2 separate regions of the Homo sapiens genome follow, and region 1 is linked to region 2. The links come from fine-mapping of genetic effects on gene expression. A gene starts in region 2. The other region holds a variant in brackets. All regions are shown on one strand. Distances are from middle to middle. Region 1 overlaps KIAA0319. Region 2 holds the start of TDP2 (tyrosyl-DNA phosphodiesterase 2).

What was found. PIP is the estimated chance that this variant, and not a neighbour inherited with it, causes the effect.
Region 1: its variant is the best candidate, but not a certain one, in a credible set for the expression of TDP2 in whole blood (TOPMed, PIP 0.82).

The regions. Positions count from the first base shown.
Region 1 is chr6:24,627,451-24,631,841 of GRCh38, forward strand. All of the region lies in intron 1 of KIAA0319, which reads right to left. Among named protein-coding and RNA genes, the nearest start is that of KIAA0319, 17 kb to the right of the region's middle. The variant C/T (reference allele first, on the strand shown) is at 2,434.
Region 2 is chr6:24,664,791-24,669,181 of GRCh38, forward strand. TDP2 (tyrosyl-DNA phosphodiesterase 2) reads right to left here and starts at 2,109. Exons shown (of 7, transcript NM_016614.3): 1 at 1,908-2,109; 2 at 1,736-1,821. The coding sequence starts at 2,072. ACOT13 (acyl-CoA thioesterase 13) reads left to right here and starts at 2,287. Exons shown (of 3, transcript NM_018473.4): 1 at 2,287-2,554. The coding sequence starts at 2,474. LOC124901279 (a long non-coding RNA gene) reads right to left here. Exons shown (of 2, transcript XR_007059509.1): 2 at 4,327-4,391. RefSeq lists enhancers at 1,155-1,827, 1,828-2,499, 2,031-2,325.

The sequences.
Region 1 (4,391 bases), 37 kb before region 2:
CTCCCTTCCTTCTTTCCTTTTTTTCCTCCCTCCTTCCCTCCTTTCCTCTCTCCCTTCCTTCCTTGTTTTCTTCTGAAAGACATGATTATGGTCTGATAAACAGAGGTCAGAATTAGGGAACAAATGATACAGTGAGGAATTCACAGCAAGGGCCTACCTAGGTCATGAGCTGTGGCCCTAGCAGAATAAAGAAATGAACACGATGTGTAGCCTGAAAACTGGAATTTACCTCAAGCACCAAAGTAACCTTTCCTACTCCGTAAATGGGAAAAGAGGCCAGGACTTCCAGCAATCTTCTTACTGGTTTCAGTTCAGGGACTAACATTATGGTCTTAAAAGTACAGATAATTATCTAATGAACTGTTAATTAATCCACAGAAGACAATCTAGAAGAGGAATATTTGTGTGCATCATTTATAGTCACTATTCAAAAATTATTAAACTACTCAAATAACAGCATAAATGTTCACCAGAAGAATGCTGAAGACATGTCCTGAATGTAGGAGCCTCCTTCCAAATACTGCTTATTCTAGGGCAAAATGAACTGAGTAATTGTGCTAATGAAAAGTTAGACATTATTCATCATTGCTTCCAGGTTTTATATTATTTCAAGCACACGTAGTGCTGGAAAGCATGTCCTAATAATTACAGAACATGGGCAATAAAAACATCCTATAATGGCATTTAGCTTCCTAAATCACCATATTTTTAAAAATCTAAACTTCCTAAATAAGTAAATTTGTGGACTGTTGCTTTTATAGACCTTGTTTTAGAGTAAGTACTGGTTAGAAATGTCAGGTATTGTAATTTTCCCACCTTTTTAAGAATTTTTTTGCTTTCCGTTCAATAATTTTTCTAAGGAACCTTATGTTTTTCTGTTTTCTAGCCTGTAAGTTCTCTTTAAAGTGTTTTTATTTTAATATGTCACATTTGATTCTGAAAGAATTCATGAGACACACTTGTAAGTTTTAAAGTGCAACTGCCCTGTGGGTTTTTAAAAGATCTGACCAGGTCCAGAACACCTGTCCATTTCCGTTCCCCCATCAGGTTCTCACTGCAGTGCTTTTTTCTTTCTTTCTTTTTTTTTTTTAATACAACCCTTGCATTTACCATCTGAATTAGTTTCCTAGGGCTACTGTAACAAAGTACAGCAAACTAAGCACCGGAAAACAACAGAAATGTTTTGTAGTCTCCCACAGTTCTGGAAGCTGGAAGTTGGAAATCAACGCATCAGCTGGGCCATGTCCCTCTGAGAGTCTGATCAGAATCCTTCTTTGTCCCTTCCTAGCTTCTGATGGTGGCCGTCAATCCTCGGCGTTCCTTTGCTTGCAGCTGCATCCCTCCAATCTGTCCCTCTATTGTCACATGGAGCTCTCCTTGTGTGCCTCTGGGTCAAAATTTTCCTCTTATAAGGGCACCAGTCGCAGTGGATAAAGGGCCCTCTCATAACCTCTTCTTGATACCATCCGCAGAAACCTTATTTTTACGTAAGGTCACATTCACAGGTATTGGGGGTTAGGACTGAAAGCATCTTTTGTGGGGACACCACGCAACCCATAACACCATTGTTTGTACTTTTCAAAAGAAAAGCTTCCTGAAATTTGCCTGTCCTGTCCCATTAGCGACTGCATGAAGTACCTAGAGCAGACAGTATTTTCTAAGTTTAAGGTGAAAAACGCCATCTACCTTATAGTGAGACAAAATAACAACTCGAGCCTTTACACACTAGGGGTTTTCTTTCATCTCTGACCAAAGGAAGTCAGCCAATGATGGAATCAATGACAGTCCAGCGTGGTGGCTCACGCCTGTAACCCCAGCACTTTGGGATGCCAAGGAGGGAGGATCACGAGGTCAGGAGATTGAGACCATCCTGGCTAACACGGTGAAACCCCATCTCTACTAAAAATACAAAAAATTAGCCAGGTGCGGTGGCAGGCGCCTGCAGTCCCAGCTACTTGGGAGGCTGAGGCAGGAGAATGGCATGAACCCGGGAAGCAGAGCTTGCAATGAGCCGAGATCGTGCCACTGCACTCCAGCCTGGGCAACAGAGTGAGACTCTGTCTCAAAAAAAAAAAAAAAAAGAAAGAAAACTCAGAATACATGAAACACTTATCCCAGCATAAGGTACTGTACAGCTAAAAGTGATGGGTGTGGAATGGTAAGGCTTTCTCATGGCTGCTACCTTTTTTAAAAATAAAAAGACAAAATGAGTTATGAAACAAACCTTGTGACTGAAACGTTGCTGTCCCCGTGGCTGCTGCTTTAGATCTGAGATAAAATTTTTAATGAAGGAGATTAGTGTGATTTTCAAAATTATATGTTACAGAACCTTGGAGAGGTACACCCCAGGAGAAATGTGCTTTTATTGGCTGCATCTCTCTGCCTGGGCTCTAGCACACTGTCTGAATGGAGGCTGAGTGAATGAAATAAATC[C/T]TTCTTTAAATAGCATGACAAGGCCGGGCCTGGTGGCTCATGCCTGTAATCTCAATACTTTAGGAGGCTGAGGTGGGAGGCTCACCTGAGGTCAGGACCAGCCTGGCCAACATGCCGAAACCCCATCTCTACTAAAAATACAAAAATTAGCCGGGCATGGTGGCGCATGCCTGTGATCCCAGCTACTCGGGAGGCTGAAGCAGGAGAATTGCTTGAACCTGGGAGGTGGAGGTTGCCGTGAGAAGAGATTGTACCACTGCACTCTAGCCTGGGTGACAGAGTGAGACTCTGTCTAAAAAAATAAAAATAATAATAGCGTGACAAAAACTTACATTAAAAAAATTGCTGGGTGCAGTGGCTCACACCTGTAATCCCAGCACTTTGGGAGGCTGAGGTGGGCAGATCACTTAAGGTCAGGAGTTCGAGGCCAGTCTGGCCAATATGGTGAAACCCTTTCTCTATTAAAAATAAAAAAATTAGCCAGGTATGGTGACATGCGCCTGTAATCCCAGCTACTTGGGAGGCTGAGGCAGGAGAATTGCTTGAACCCGGGAGGCGGAGGTTGCAGTGAGCTGAGATTGCACCACTGTACTCCAGTCTGGGTGACAGAGCAAGATTCTGTCTCAAAAAAAAAAAAAAAAAAAAAAAGAAAGAACGAAAGAAAAAAGAAAAAAATTACATTAAAAAATTAGTCATTATAAATTGTACATTCCTAGAAAAAAATTATAAATCGTGCCAACAAATGGCTGCTTTTCTTCTTTTAGATTCTCGTTCCATTTATTCAATTGTGTGTATATGTGTATATATATATATATATATACACATATACACACAAACTTTAGTACAGCTATCATCTTAGAGTTGTATAATACTTTCATTCAATATTTTATCACAAAAATTATCCTTCATTGTTATATTTTTTATAATTTGTTTGCAACATTCCATTGATTATTACAATTTACTTCATCATTTCTTTGTTTCCAACTTGGGATGTTTATAAATAATGCTGGAGTGAAATGCTTCTGCAGGCTCAGAAAAGGGCAAGCTGCAGCTTTTGTATCTGAAGGGAATGGAAACAGCCCAAAGAGGGCCTCTTTCAGAGATCCAAACAGATTGTCTGCATAGCATTGTCCTACAGGCTGTTAAGAACGAGCTGTATTTATAGGTTGTCCCATTTATGGTTTACTGAGTGAGGAAACTAAGCTGGCAAAGCCCTGCTTTTTAGAGCCAGTGAACTCACAAAAGATGCAGCCATAATATATTCCTAGTTCAATTTAGCCAGTGGGGCAGCTAGGGAAGTTCTCCTCTTTTATGATTCCTCTTTCCTTGCCGTATCAGCCACTACTTTGACAAAACCTGTCTTCGCCAAGGCAGCCTTCAGCTTCAGCGGTGAATGCAGGCCATGGGTCTACCTCCTGAGCACCTCTCCAGGAGTCACAGAAACAGTGCTAGAAAGGAAGGAGGGGATTTCCCACTCATTGGGAGGGTCAACTTGATAAAACAGATAAGAGAACAATTGAAAGGAGCAATAGGTGGCATGTAGTGAAGGAGTATACGTTGGGAGAAAGAAATGGTAAGAAACAAATATGCACCAATTGCTATGGTAAATTTTACCATCTTTTCCACAGTCTTAGATTAATGCACTGTCTTACAGCCCTTGTATTACAACATAACACCACAGTTTTTTACTCCTGGAAACACTGTCCCTACATTAGGAAAAACAATTTTAGAAGGTGAAACCTTGAGTGTACACCATGTGGCTTTAAATATTCTCCCTAATTATGGAAACAACTTAGCTTTCAAATGGCTCAGCACTTTTATTTCTCCCTAAATTCAATTCTTATCTAACGGGGTCACCACTGCTATCTAAGTAGGTGCTTTGCCTTGTGCTATAGTAAGTAAATTATCACCTTTAGAAAACATGCCCCAAGGAAGGCTAGAGAAAGTGCAGACACCCC
Region 2 (4,391 bases):
CCTCACTCTCATTCATACTTGACCTGAGTTCTGAGAGACAAGAGACCACAGCCTAATCAACACCTTTGCTTGTTTTTGCCAATTTACCATTCCGGGGTAAGAGAATCCTAATAGCCATGACACCATTGATCAGCTTGATCCGCATCTTTTCTGAGGGCCTATTACAGGAAATCCACTTATTTTGTTACTATTTATTGGTTACAATATAGTCTGTTGCAACCAACAGACATTAACTCAGGTTGGTTTGACCAAAACAGGAGAATTTATAAGGAAACAAACATGTCACAGAGCCTGGTACAGAAATACAGCCATGTTTAAGGAAGGGCAGTTAAGGGCTTTCTCTCAATCCTACACTTCAACTTCCCTCTGCTTCATTGTCTCTCTGCAGACCTCTGTTCTCAGCTTCTCTGTACACAAAAAAAGATATGTATGAATCCTCACAGGTGCTAAGTTAACATGTTACAGTTCCAGCTCCATAGGAAGACTCAGACTTGACTCTCTTGGTCCTAATTCTGAAACCAAGGAGAGGATCTGACTGGCCAGTTTGAGCTAGGCAAACACCTCCTAGTCCAACTTGCTCTGGTTAGTAAAACGGGAGCCAGAGACAAATCACTGTGGGTGAGTAAACAATTCCCCAACAAGAGGCAAGACAGAGAAAGGAACCTAAAGAAAATATCTTATCACATCTGTAAGCCAGTGTAGCTGAAAAGACCAAAGGGAAAATAAAGTCTCCACTATGAACAGTCAATTTTACAGGTTGTACATATAGCTGGGAGAATTTTATACATTCAGTAAATATTTATTGGGAGCTTATTATGTGTCAAATGTTGTGTCAGACTTTGGGAAATTAACAATGTACAAAACAGATACTCCTTACTAGATGTGCAGTCTAGTAGGAGACATAAAATAATGAACAGCAATTATAATACGGACTAAGGTATTGTAACAGGGGTCATGCAGGATGCTATAAGAGTACCTAAAAGGGGACTCTTACCCAGACTTAGGACATCAGGAAAAGCTTCCTAGAGATAAATCATGTCTCAGCTTGGGGCTTTAAGACAAATATTAGCAAGGAAGGGAAAAGAAAAAAATTCCAGGCACAGGTAATAAAGATCTTTACGAAGTTTCAAAGACAGGAGAAAATGACCCGTTGGAAAAAAGTAAAAGTTTGATAGGCCTGGAACCTGGAAAGGCAGGTTCTAAGTTATGGAGCCAAATAGTAGAGGGCCTTGTAAGGCAGCTACACTTTTTAAGTGCAGGAACTGGAGAGGGGCACTGAAATAACAGGAGTAGGTGTGCATTAAAAAAAAATAACAACAACAACAAACCTGTTATTCTGGCCGGTCAGCCTAGGGCCTAGAATAAATAAACAATACAGGAAGCAAGGAGACTTCCAAGTTGCCATTTTTCGATAGAAGGTTTAGCCTTCGTTCATTTGTTTCAAACCTCTCGCTTACTTATTTCCTTTCATTTGAGTTAAACATTACATTTCCATCTTTTCCTCCCTGGACCCCAAATCACGTTCGAAGCGACAGTCTGGTGCAGTGTTAGATCCGCTGCTGGGGCGCAACTCCGCGCAGCAGCAGCAACGCAAGCCCTGCTCCTCTGGCTACGCAGCTTGGAGATCTGCCTCAGCATCGTCCGCCCAGCTCCACGGCAGGTCCCAGGACGCGCAGGGCTACCTGGTATCAAACTGCCTCCGTGCGGACTGGCTCCCGCTCCCCTCATCACTTACTAGGTCTTGGGCTCAGAGATGGTTTCAGGTCGGCGTTCCAAGGCGCTCTCCTCCACCGGAGGCTCGAAGTAGGAGTTCAGAGCCCTCTGAAAAACAAAGGCACAAGGGATGAGGTTTGTGCGCTCCACCGACCTAGGTAATGGAGCCGGAAGCGAGGACAGCGAAAGCGTACTTCCATCTCCCAGTCGTTCTCGGCCAGGAAGCACTGAGCCACTGCGGCATCGCAGCTTGCGACCGAGGCAAACTCCACACACAGAAGTCGCCGCTTTTTCACCTCAGGCTCGCCCTCTTCCTCCGCCGCCTCCCTCCCGCCCTCCAGGCAACTCCCCAACTCCATCTTCCTGCCGCCTCTGCACCGCCCCTTTAAGCGGAACAGGAGGCCAACGCGCGGCTCTGCGCAGGCGCCTGTGTCATGGCGCTCCCGCATCAACCGCCCGGCGGGGAAATGCGCTGCTCTCGGAAAACTGGTGCAGCTGCGCCGCAAGGGAGCCGCCGGGGCGGTGGGTGCGAAGCGCGCATGCGCGCTTCGTCACAAGGGTGCGAGGAAAGTCAGTGAGCAAATCGCGGACCACCGGGGCTGCCAGCTCGCCTGACTCCCGGCCTCTTGCGCTCCTAGGGGCGGAGAAGGGTGCGGGCTCTTCGCCCTTTGTGTCCTCCTTCTTTCACTAACTTCTGGACTTTCCAGCTCTTCCGAAGTTCGTTCTTGCGCAAAGCCCAAAGGCTGGAAAACCGTCCACGATGACCAGCATGACTCAGTCTCTGCGGGAGGTGATAAAGGCCATGACCAAGGCTCGCAATTTTGAGAGAGTTTTGGGAAAGGTATGGGAAAGGTAGGGGAGAAGCCGTGGCTTCTAATGAAGGAAAAGAAAGCACCGTGCTTGGTGCCGTTGTGAGCTTTGAATAATTATCTCTTGTTAGGTTGTGTTCTAGTACGCCTGTAAATTCACCTTAGTAATAATGATTATTACTTTAATGGAGCCCCTAAATATGCTGGGTCGAACGCGTAAGTTCTCTATCTAAACATAGATAAGTATGGTTATGACTCGTGGAGACAGTTCCAAGGCTGGGAGGGACTTTGGAGTTTGATCCTTCAACCAACAAACGTCTGCATTGCTCCAGAGAAGAGTAAGAGAAACCTCTGCATTTAAGGCACATTACAGTCTAATTCTCTAGGCTCTAGAAGATTAGAAGATAAATAATTGCAATAAGGTACAAAAGCCAAGTGCTTGGTAGAGTGGTGAACGAAGGGAGAAGTTGTTCCTCTGTAGTGGTTTGGGAAATTTCTCAAAGGCACCCAACTCCTGAAGAAGTAAGTTAGCCCTTGGAGGAAGACTGAGTGCTTTTCTGAGACCAGCACTCACAAAGCCCGAAGGTGTTTGTTTGTTTTTGTTTTTTTAGGATGAGGTTTCGCCCTTGTTGCCTAGGCTGGAGTGCAATGGCGCGATCTCGGCTCACTGCAACCTCCACCTCCCTGGTTCAAACAATTCTCCTGCCTCACTCAGCCTCCCGAGTGGCTGGGATTACAGGCATGCGCCACCATGCCCAGCTAATATTGTACTTTTAGTAGAGACAGGGTTTCTCCATGTTGGTCAGGCTGCTCTCGAACTCCCGACCTCAGGTGAAACGCCTGCCTCCGCCTCCCAAAGTGCTGGGATTACTGGTGTGAGCCGCCACGCCAGACCTTGAAGGTGTTTGTTGTTGTTGTTGTTTTGAGATGGAGTCTTGCTCTGTTGCCCATGCGGGAGTGCAGTGACACGATCTCGGCTCACTGCAACCTCCGCCTCCTGGGTTCAAGTGATTCTCATGCCTCAGCCTTCCAAGTAGCTGGGATGATTACAGGCATGCGCCACCAAGCCTGGCTAATTCTTTATTTTTATTAGAGACAGGGTTTCATCATGTTGGTCAGGCTGGTCTCAAACTGCTGACCTCAGGTGATCCACCTGCCTTGGCCTCCCGAAGTGCTGGGATTACAGGCATGAGCCACCATGCCCCGCCAAAAGCAGGGATTTACTGAAAATGAAAGGACACTCCTGTGTTTGGGGTGTGGAGCAGCAGCTCAGGGGCCCTAATACCCCATTGAAGTCTCCTATTGGCCACTTGGTACTCATCTCATGTAAATGAAGTGGTGACCCACAATTGGCTGTGAAAAGCAACCAATGAAAGGCTAAAGTGAAGTTACAAAGTTGCCCTTATATGCAAACGAAGACGTGGCGTGCAATCAGATGGTGAAGTTACATAGTTACACTCCTATGGGAAGATCTGATTGGTTGCAGAAAGAATAATTTTTTTTAAGGGATAACTTACTTCTTAGCGTAATTTTGCTTTTTGCAACCAATCAGAGGTACTTTCAATTTCCCATCTGCCACACAGAAAAGGTGGGGGTTTGGAAAGGGAGAAGCCTCTGGTTCTTTTGTTACTTGGTGTGGGAAGTTAGGGTTTTACTTTCAATTTAGTTCTAGGAAGTCAGCGTGAAACAGCCCTAGGTTCCCTGCCTCCAGATCCGATTCTCCTGCCTCGCTTGTAAGAAAATCATGCTCCATAAGAAGCATTTATAACTAAACCTTGTGAACCCCAAAAATTTGAGACAGGTATCAGTTAATTTAGAAAGTTTATTTTGCCAAGGTTGAGGATGCGCACGCAGTGACACAGCCTCAGG